2 separate regions of the Homo sapiens genome follow, and region 2 is linked to region 1. The links come from fine-mapping of genetic effects on gene expression. Tissue or cell type: whole blood. Region 1 holds a variant in brackets; the other region holds the start of a gene. All regions are shown on one strand. Distances are between the middles of the regions.

The links. PIP is the estimated chance that this variant, and not a neighbour inherited with it, causes the effect.
Region 2: it holds the start of MLC1, and the variant in region 1 is fine-mapped to the expression of MLC1 in whole blood (INTERVAL, PIP 0.99).

Annotation. Positions count from the first base shown.
Region 1 is chr22:50,141,453-50,147,132 of GRCh38, forward strand. MOV10L1 (Mov10 like RNA helicase 1) reads left to right here. Exons shown (of 27, transcript NM_018995.3): 16 at 629-737; 17 at 1,591-1,769; 18 at 2,645-2,791; 19 at 4,237-4,358. Among named protein-coding and RNA genes, the nearest start is that of PANX2, 26 kb to the right of the region's middle. The variant T/G (reference allele first, on the strand shown) is at 3,140.
Region 2 is chr22:50,082,099-50,087,428 of GRCh38, forward strand. MLC1 (modulator of VRAC current 1) reads right to left here and starts at 3,328. Exons shown (of 12, transcript NM_015166.4): 1 at 3,257-3,328; 2 at 2,628-2,863; 3 at 986-1,075. The coding sequence starts at 2,804. RefSeq lists a silencer at 962-1,256 and an enhancer at 2,976-3,600.

The sequences.
Region 1 (5,680 bases):
CAAGTAGCTGGGACCACAGGTGAGCACCACCATGCCCGGCTAATTTTTTTTTTTTTTTTGTATTTTTGCTAGAAACAGGGTTTCACCATGTTGCCCAGGCTAGTCTTAAACTCCTGGGCTCAAGTGATCCACCTGTCTTGGCCTCCCACAGTGGTGGGATGATAAGCGTGAGCCCCGTGCCCGGCCTGGTGCAGGATCTTGCCTGACGTCAACAGGCAGCACTGGCACTTTGCACACTCTCCAGGCCCGTGAGACCCAGAGCCCTGGGCTGTACCCTTGACTGTCCCCTGCAGGTTCCCCCACTGTCCAGCCTGGAAAGCAGGTAGGATGTACCAAGGGAAGATGATATTAATAAAATAAAATTTAGTCCTGTGCTTTGGTTTCATCACAAATTTTAGTTTATTTCTAAAAGCAAGTTTAAAGAAAAAAGCACAAACTTTTTTAGCAGTTTTTTATCTGATCGTTTGTTTTTTCTTTATTTTTCAAAGGGTCTGACCTGTGATCCATCCAAAGAGCTGTTAAATAAATATACTAAGTAGAACACTAGATGTTTACGTTTGCTCTTTCAACCAAGCCAGTGTAAACACAGCTGTTTTTTTAAAACATTTTTCTGCCTGATAATTTCTAGAATAGGAAAACAATGACGGACCAAGCTGAGCATGGAACAGAGGAGAGGCGTGTTGGTGACAAGGACCTGCCGGTGCTGGCACCCTTTACTGCAGAGATGAGCGATTGGGGTATGTGCTCATGAGGGGCAAGGAGAAGAGCAACTCTGAGACTGTCGCCTGGAAAACGGGGACTTTGAGGAGTGGGCTCTCATGCAGAAGGAAGAACAGTAGGGGGCGTGTGGCCTGTGACAGGCGGCTGCCGTCTCCACCCTGACTGGAGACTTGGTGTTTTAGCTTAGATACTTTAAGAAGACTTTTAGATTCTGGGTTGTTTTTTTCCAGGTACTCTGCAGATGTGGACATTTTTTAATCCAGTCTCTAATATTTGAGTGTGATCTCTAAAGCCGCAGAATCGGTTGACAGCCTGTCATTTTCCTCTCAGCAGCTGCATTCGTTCTCCTGACCCTCTTTAACAAAGCACAGACAGGTTGAGTGCAGGGCTCACACCTGTCATCCTAACACTTTTGGGAAGCTAAGGTGGGCAGATCATATGAGCTCAGGAGTTCGAGACCAACCTGGACAACATGGCGAAACCTTGTCTCTATAAAAAAAAAAAAATACAAAAATTAGCCAGGTGTGGTGGTGGGCGCCTGTGGTCCCAGCTACCCGGGAGGCTGACGTGGGAGGATCGCTTGAGCTCAGGAGATGGAGGTTACAGTGAGCTGAGATTGTGCCACTGTACTCCAAGCTGGGTGACAGAGCGAGACCCTGTCTCAAAAAAGAAAAAAAAAATGCAAACAGATTATTAAGAGGAATGCCCTGTGCGCATCTTACCCCTGGTCACACTGAAGAGCTACTCCCTGTCTGTGACTCTGATTTAGCCTTTGCACAGACGTGCTGACGCCTGACCTAGGTGAGGACGTGTCCACAGCTGTTGAGAGCTGTTTGCATCTAACTGAAACTTTCTTCACTTTGAATACAGTAGATGAAATTCAGACCCCTAAAGCAAGAAAGATGGAGTTTTTCAACCCAGTGCTAAATGAAAATCAGAAGTTAGCAGTTAAAAGGATTCTGAGTGGTGACTGCCGTCCCCTCCCGTATATTCTCTTTGGACCTCCTGGTACTGGAAAGACAGTGACAATAATAGAGGCTGTTTTACAGGTAAGGACAGCGGCGCCGCGGGTGCTGTGGCTCTGTGCTGCTGTTCATGTGTCGTCTGTGTCTTCAGGAAGTGTGAGTTTAGATTGTAGAATCAGACAGTTGGAAAGAGCTTGAGAAATACCAGTTATTTCATAATGTTAAGTCTGTTTTTGTGGATATGTAGGGATTTAAAAGCTTATTTCATAGGTTTAGAAGGAAACTCATTTTTAGCCTGGTAAACTATTTTATCTGAATCATGACATTTTGCTGCAGAAAAGAAGTTACTCTTATAGTAGCTACAGCCACCATTCCACAGAAGTTTTAGATATCTTCATTTGTAATTGAAGTTAAGTTTATGAAACTATTGTCTACAGATGCTTCTTAACTTTTGATGGGGTTACAACCCAATAACCCATCGTAATGGGATTTGGGAAGCCTGTTTCAGGTTCATCAAGGCATGATCCCTTGTCAGGTGAGGAGCAGACTGACTGGGGATGGTCTTCACACCATCATAAAGTCAAAAAAGCGTTAAGTCAAACCATCATAAGCCGAAGACCATCTACATTTAGCGTCATTCAGGATTCAAATTAGCAAACAGGTATTGAGCGCACAATTGTACCACACGCCAGATGTGTGCAGATGAATCTGACTCTGTTTCTGCCCTGAAAGGTGGTTTAGAATCTTAGAGAGTGCGGAGAACCTTCCCACCTAACCCATGCTTTGGCAGCAGTGTGATGAGGCAGAGTCGTGGCCCAGGTCTCAGTGTGTTGGGGGCTGGCATCTGAGCCCATGCAGCTGAGTCCCTGCACCCGAATGTGTGTGTTGAGGTTAGACTCCTGGTTTCCACCTTGCGGTGTGGATGTTGAGCCTTGGTCTCTTGTGTGTCTTTGATGAAGGTACACTTTGCCTTGCCGGACAGTCGGATTTTAGTCTGTGCGCCCTCCAACAGTGCTGCTGACCTCGTGTGTCTGCGGCTGCACGAGAGCAAGGTGCTACAGCCGGCCACCATGGTCCGGGTGAACGCCACCTGCAGGTTCGAGGAGGTGAGCCCTTGGTGCAAGCAGTGGGGGGCACCAGAACCCCTCCCTGGAACATAGGAAATGCCAAGTGGACAGGGGAGGGCAGGGGTAGGAGGGTGGGCACAGAGGCGCCACAGAAAGCTGTGTTTGAGAAATGGCTCTGCCATGGGCCCTCCCTCACCGCTAAATGGTGGAGCTTGATTGCTGACTATTTCATCACATTCTCACTCTGTGTGAGTTATCACACCTATTGTGGGCATTCGTAGCATTGTAAAATTATCACATTCCTCTTTTATTTAATCCCCAAACGTCTTGTTACTTTTTAAGTAGTTTTGTTTTGTTGGTTTGGTGTTTTTTGTTTTGTTTTGTTTT[T/G]TTTTTTTGAGACGGAGTCTCGCTGTGTCGCCCAGGCTGAAGTGCAGTGGCATGATCTCGGCTCACTGCAAGCTCCGCCTCCCAGGTTCACACCATTCTCTGGCCTCAGCCTCCCAAGTAGCTGGGACTACAGGCACCCGCCACTGCGCCCGGCTAATTTTTTGTATTTTTAGTAGAGACGGAGTTTCACCGTGTTAGCCAGGATGGTCTCGATCTCCTGACCTCATGATCTGCCCGCCTCGGCCTCCCAAAGTGCTGGGATTACAGGCGTGAGCCACCGTGCCCGGCCTGGTTTGGTTTTAAGTATTCCTTTAAGTTGCTGGTTTGGTTATAGAGCGAAGTATTGCTTTTATTTTTTTGTTTGTTTGAGACAGAGTTTTTGCTCTTGTTGCCCAGGCTGGAGTGCAGTGGTGTGATCTTGGCTAACTGCAACCTCCGCCTCCCGGGTTCAAGCAATTCTCCTGCCTCAGCCTCCTAAGTACCTAGGATTACAGGTGTGTGCCACCACATCCAGCTAATTTTGTATTTTTAGTAGAGACAGGGTTTCACCATGTTGGTCAGGCTGGTCACGAACTCCTGATCTCAAGTGATCCACCCGCCTCTGCCTCCCAAAGTGTTGAGATTACAGGCTTTAGCCACTGTGCCCAGCCTGAAATATTGCGTTTAAAAAAGACATTGAAAATAGCTGGGCGTGGTGGCATGCGCCTGTAATCCCAGCTACTCCGGAGGCCGAAGCAGGAGAATCACTTGAACCTGGGAGGCAGAGGTTGCAGTGAGCCGAGATTGCACCATTGCACTCCAGCCTGGGCGACAGAGCAAGAGCAAGACTCCCTCTCTAAATAAACAAACAAACAAACTGAATAGAAAATGTACAAAGTTGTTTTGGGGAAGGGTCTGCAGGATTATGTGTTATATTTGTGGCTCTAGAGTTGATAAAACATGGACTGAATTGATAAGGAAGTATGAGATATTTTGAGAAAAAAACCTTAAATCATGACTTAGACGTAACTAAGAAGTGGTACCAGGGCAAGGTTCCCTTTTGGAATTCTGCTTAATAATTGGAGGAGTAAACTAACTCTACGCCTCCTTGCCCCCAGATAGTTATTGACGCCGTCAAACCGTATTGCAGAGACGGAGAAGACATCTGGAAAGCCTCACGCTTCCGGATAATCATCACCACATGCAGCAGCTCAGGGCTGTTTTACCAAATAGGAGTGAGGTGAGCCCCGGGCATGGAGCGCGGCATGGGGCCTCCCAGGGCAGAGGTCGGAGTCCTCTCCTAGCTTCTGTCTGAGGGGCGGATGACCCAGAGACTCAGTGCTCAGGGAGGGAGGCAGGGCTGTGGGCGAGAAAGGCTGGTTGGGGAGGGCCGTGCCTGAATGGAGCTGGGGAAGCCGAGACCCCAAGGACTCGAAGGAGCCAGCAGTGGGATGGGCAGGCAGATGGACTGGCCCATGCAGAGGCCCCGCGGTGGGGGAGCACTGAGGTCTCCCCAAAGGAGACTGTAGAGCCAGAGCCTCGTGAGCAGGAACGGCCTGAAAGGGGTGGTGAGGGGGAGGCCTGGCGGGCTGTGGAGGGGCCTTTGGACGACCTCTGGTGAGCCGGGAAGCCAGTGAAGGGCTTCTGAGCAGGAGAGTGAGTCTCTTGGAGTGGGCGTGGGGAGGCAGGCTGCCTAGGAAACGGCTGGGCTCTGTAAGGTCAGACCCTGGGGGCCATTTGTGTCCCTGGCGCTGGGGGCTCTTCAGGGGAGACAGGCGGAGGAGATGGATTGTGGGGTGCCGGCTGTCATAGGAGGACCTCCCCTGGGGGCTGGGAGGAAGAGCTTCGAGCCCAGGGAGGCTGAGTGAGGACCAAGGCACTCTCAGACCCCAGTGCAGGGGGGTGGGGTCGGGGAGGCAGCAGGCAGCTCCCTCTCAGTGCATAGAGCCAGACAGTGTCGGGGGCACAGGCTGAGGGTGAGAGAGGGAGAAGCCAGGGCCTCTGAGGGAAGCCCCACCCTCCCTGACGGCCTGGAGACAGGTCGCTCTGAACAGTGTCCAGCGTCACAGTGGTCGTGACCCTCCCTGACAGCCTGGAGACAGGTCACCCTGGACAGTGTCCAGCGTCACGGTGGTCGTGAGGGTGACCACAGGAGGTGGTCCGTCAGCTCCACATGGAGCAAAGGCACAGCCAGCCACGCCTATCACAGCGTGTCACGGATGGTTTCATCGGCGCGTTTAACTCTCTCACATACATGATGTCCTTTCATCATGAGATTAGTAGAACGTGATTGATGAGACACTTTACATTTTTTTTGGTTCAAGTCTTCAAAATCCACCATGTATTTTACACTTAGAGCATGTCAGGTTTCAGACTAGCCACTGTGCGGTGCCCGAGAGCCGTGTGTGGCTACCGGATTGGACAGCACGGATCTGAACAAGACAGGGATTTTTTTTGTTAATGTGTGTTGATGAGTCAAAGGTCAAGAGCCGAAGAGCCAGTCCTCACTGGGGTGCAGAGGGCTCTTTGGGGGCAGAGCGGGCACTGCATGGACCCTGCACC
Region 2 (5,330 bases), 60 kb before region 1:
CAGAGACCCAGCAGGCATGTGGAAGCGAGAGGAGGGGAGAGCTCGGGACCAGCTGAAGCAGGAGGGGCGTGGGGTCCGCGGCTTGCGGGCCAGAGGGGCATGGGGTCCGCGGCTTGCGGGCCAGAGGGGCATGGGGTGCGCGGCTTGCGGGCCAGAGGGGCATGGGGTCCATGGCTTGCGGGCCAGAGCCCAGGGGTCAGCCAGCATGGTGCTCTAGCTGCCGGGACGCTGGGGAGGCAGTGGCCGGGGTTCACAGAGGACCAGGGGACAGCGGTTGTCTGTCCTCCCTTGCTCTGAGGATCAGTGGGTGCCTCCACCGGCCTTGGCACTGTGTAAGTTTCTAAAAACACAACATGAAGCTTTGGGAGGATGTGGGGCACAGGTCCCAGTCCCCTGAGGGCAGATGCTGCCAGCTCTGGCAGGACGCAGCCGCAGGCTCAGAATCAACACGCAATTCCCTGCACAGGCGTCTGCAGAGCAAGGTTCAGGCCTGCTTCATCAGTAATTCTCAAAGGTGATGAACTCTACGTGAAACTAAAGTCATATGAAGAGTTTTTTGTTTTTTTCTTGTTGTTGTTGTTTTGAGACGAAGTTTCACTCTCATTGCCCAGGCTGGAGTGCAGTGGCACAATCTGGGCTCACTGCAACCTCCGCCTCCCAGGTTCAAGCGATTCTCCTGCCTCAGCCTCCTGAGTAGCTGGGAGTACAGGCACCCACCACCGCGCCCAGCTAATTTTTGTATTTTTAGTAGAGATGGGGTTTGTCCATGTTGGTCAGACTGGTCTCAAACACCTGACCTCAGGTGATCCACCCACCTCCACCCCTCAAAGTGCTGGCATGACAGCCATGAGCCACTGTGCCCGGCCCATATGAAGAGGTTTGAATGAGGTACAGGTGACAGAAACCTGCACATCTCAGAACAAAGAAACCAGAGCACGTGCCGGCGAGCTTGGGCACTGGCAGAGGCGTGGAGGAAGCTGCTTACAGAGCCTGCAGCACAGCGCAAGTAATCCATCTCAGCCGGGAACACGTTCCCCAGGTACAGCGAAAACCCCGAGGTCACCAGGAGGCAGCTCTGCAAGACAGCGACAGAATCCCAGGTTACAACGCGCCCCGTCCCCAGGCTGGACCCTGACCCTTCAACTTCTGCTTCACTGTCTGTGTATTGGTGACTCACCCACGTCCCCCAGCATCAACCACACCCGCACCTGGGACCCGCCCATCCTGGACTCCTCCTGTAGGACAGACGCAGCCCCGCCGCAGCCCAGGACATGGACCAGCCTCCCCCAGCCATGTCGGAGCATGGACCCCCCACGCTGTTATCTGGAGGAGAGAAGAAAGGGGATCTGCCAATATTTAGAGCAAGGAATGGCACCTCTCCCCACAAAATACTCCTGCCCCAACATGTTGTGCGTGCAGTCTTCCAGATCCCACACCCAGGTCCAGACACGAGACTGGAAAACAACTGCCCATCCCCCTCCGTCTGCAGAACCTAATTTCCAGATCTGGAAGAAGATCCCTCCAGGCAGGGGCTCCAGGCCCAGGGGCTCCTGAGCAGGGAAGACCCTAGCAGGAGGCAGGGAGGGTGCTCTCTCTCACGCACAGCACTGCAGGGGTGCGGTGGGGAGGGGGCTCTCTCTCACGCACAGCACCCCCGGGGTGAGTCTGAGGGGAGTCAGTATCAAAGGTCACTGGGACCCAGGGTCCTGGCAGAGGAAGCGAGGTCTGGGGCAGAGGGGATCTGGCCTGGGCGGGGGAGGGGCTGCGACCAAGTCCAGGGCACCAGGTGGAGGAGGGCAGAGCCCGGAGATGGCCACCACCACCCGGGAGCCGCCTCTGTCCCCAGCTCCGAGGCAGACGCCTGTCTTGGTGGGGCATGCTCAGGCCACGGGAGGTGGGCAGGACCACTGTGGGTGCTGCAGGGGCTGCCGGCGGAGGCCAGGGCACAGGGAGGGGAGAAATCACAGCCTGGATCTCATTCTCAGCCCAAGCTACACGGAACCGGGGGTCCCTGCATAGAGGCCTGTCCTGCAGCATGGCTCTGAGCAGCTGCACACACTCAGGCCCAAGTGGCTCCTCCAATCATCTCTGTGCCCACGACTGTGCAGGGAATGGCCAGGACCCCAGGGAAATCCCTCGGACATCTGGCGCTGCCCGTCCACCCCAGACCTGTTCCTTTGTTCCCCAGCTCCCTCCCAGCCGGCCCCTGAGGCCCTCCCTAGGAGGAGGAGGTCCCTGAGGTTCTCTCTGTGAGGGCCGACCTGAAGGCCTGAGACGCCTCCTCCCACCTTTGCAGGTGACCCCTCAGAGGACCCTGGGCCCCCAGAGCCGAGGGTCATGGAGACTCCTGGGGCCCATTCATGGCCCTGGGACTGTCCCTACCCTGGTGGGACTAAGCCACAACCTGGAGCAGCTCAAGGCTGGCACAACAGACACCCATAAATTAATAAAAATAATTGTGAAAACACAAGCAAAACAAGCTCGTCGGCATCCAAGAGTTCTGCAGCAGCAGGGTTAGTCTGAGAGTTGCTCTCTCTGTCCCACCTGGGGCTCCAGGGCGCTGCAGTCCGTCACCAGAGGGACCAGATGCTCGTGGCCCTCCAAGGGCTTAGTGTGGAGCTACTCACCCCCATCAGCACAGAGAAGACCCACGTCTTGTGGCTGAAGCAGGGGGGCAGTCTCTTCGACAGCTGCAGGTCGCTCGGCTTCGCGTCTGGGGCATAGCTGGCGGGGTCTTGCCGGCCCCGCTCCAGCGTGGGCATCCGGTCATAGGCCAGCTCCTCTCTGAATGGCTCCTGGGTCATGGCACTTGGGGACACCACAGCTGTGCTGAATGTACAGCCACGTGTCACCAGTTCTTTATCTGGAATAAAATTATCATCGGCTTTGGCCACTCTGAGGAAACTTCAATAAGTTGTTTCCAAGAAATATTTTTTAACAAAAGAAATATTGTTCATACTGAAGTGCTCTAAATTTGAAGAAGAAAATGAGCACTTGAATCTAAAAGTGAAAAAGAAATAACTTTCCTAGAAAAACGGACCTGAATAGTCTGGGTTCAGGGTGAGATTCTACACTTTAAATGCCTCATTGATCCATCTGGGCCCTCCAGGTGCAACACCTGACAACATCCATCGGCAACTTCGTCCATGAACACATCACGCCGGGGACTCAAGCACGTTAAACTGCTCCAATTGGTAGCTAAACGAGAGATTGCAAAACATGCCTCTACTCAACGGCTTAATGTCTGAGCACTTACCTCCCCCGCTGCTCTGCCGTTGGGAGCACTGGTCTCTGGGTGAGGGACTTCCAGCAAGAAGTATTCACAAATGAAACAAAAGCTCAGCAAACTTGAGCTGAAGGCAGGGGAAGGAGAGCTGCTTCCTGAATATCAATGAGGGGAGGAATCGGGTGGATCGTAGAAATGTTTCGTGTTGGTTGTGTAAACCACTGCCTCGGAGCTGTCAGAACCCAACTAGGAAAGGAAGGGGCCCTGCCTGTGCCACTCGCCACAGAGCTCGGGTCTCTCAGAAGAAAGAAGCGTCCCTAAGAATAGAATCCCACCAAGTACACATTCTGAGCAGGCTCTGTTTCTGAAACGTAACTGTTTACTCGAAGGTCTTCTACATCTTTCCAAGTAGCCTTTTTCCATCCCCCACAGCCACACGGTGGGAACCTCCTTCACACGGTCACATAAGCATTCACGCACTCGGCTTAGCTGTGTGGCCTTGGGCGGCTCCGGATTCGGCCCTGTGGTTTGCGTGGGCAGCCCGGATGGCTGGTGGGCCCGGTCCTGCTGCCCCCTTTATCTCTGCTCACCAAGCAGAGAAAAACCACAGTAATGTGTGTCGCCCAGAGACACTGGCACCCTGACAACTACAGCAACGGGTTCTTTGTGCACATTGTAAAAAGGCTCAAACTAAAGTTTCTGAAAAACCAGCTCCTTAAACCATGAACCCACATTAAAACTTGAGCAAAGTCATCAGGTTCCAGACCATGGGATGTTCTGTTGTCTTCGTTTCAATCAAGCAAGAAGCTTTTAGTAAGCTTTTATTAGCTTTTAGTAAGTTTTTATTAGCTTTTAGTAAGATTACACATACAAGCATCCCTGTCCCAGTGAAAATGCCCACTAAATCACCTCGATCAAAATGCGTAAGTGTCAAGTACGCATAAATGCAGCTCAAAACACTTTGCTCAACCTCACCCCCACAGGAAACAGCAGTGATAAATTTTTAGCAATAAACGAAAGTTTAAGCTATACTAGTATTTTAGGGTTAGTTAATTTTGTGCCAGCCACCACAGCCAATGTTCTGTTGTCTTCATTTCAATCAAGCAAGGATGAGAAATAATTTTCAAAAACTATAATCTGTGAAGTCAAGAACTCATTTTAATGGATTGAGAAACCTCCCAAACTTCACTATCTTTTAAAGCGATAAACGGGATTAGTGGGAGTGGGTCCAACTGGATCGAATCCTCCTGTGTTTCTTTTTGTTTGGAAAAAAATGTTAATCGGATTTCAACATTTTTTTCTTTCAAAAGTTGCTCTCCACTTAGAAATACAAACAAGCTGCCCTGAACCAGAGGTTGCAGAGCAAATCCCTCAGCTTCCCAGATCATAAGTCATCACTTGAGAAATGCTCCCAAGTTTCTGTTGGCAACACTAGTTTCTAGAACAGGCCCTGTTCTTTCATACAATCTTCCAACAAATTCTTGCTCCTAAAATGCCCTTCATCCCTCTGCCTGCTGATGTCCCATCATCATTCAACATTCAACAAACATTTATGGGGTGGACAAAGAAGTGACGTCCTTCCTATAGGCTGTTTACATTCATTGGGGGCACAGGAGTGCACAGGATAAACAAATTAGTGTGTTATACAGTGATATGGTTTGGCTGTGTCCCCACTCAAATCTCATCTTGAATTGTAATTCCCATAATTCCTACATGTCGTGGAAGGGGCCCGGTGGGAGGTAATTGAATCATGGGGGTGGTTACCCCCATGCTGCTGTTCTCCTGACAATGAGTGAGGTCTTATGAGATCTGATGGTCTTTTATAAGGGGCTTTCCCCGCTTTTGCTCAAGACTTCTCCTTCCTGCCACCTTGTGAAGAAGGACATGTTTGCTTCCCCTTCCACCATGATTGTAAGTTTCCTGAGGCCTCCTCAGCCCTGTGGAACTGTGAGTCAATTAAAGCTCTTTCCTTTATAAGGACTTGACTCTAAAATTACCCAGTCTTGGGTATGTCCTTATAGCAGCGTGAGAACAGACTAATGCATCCAGTGACACACATGATTTCCTCTATGAGGGAAAAGAAGTCAGGGGAGAGAAATGAGGG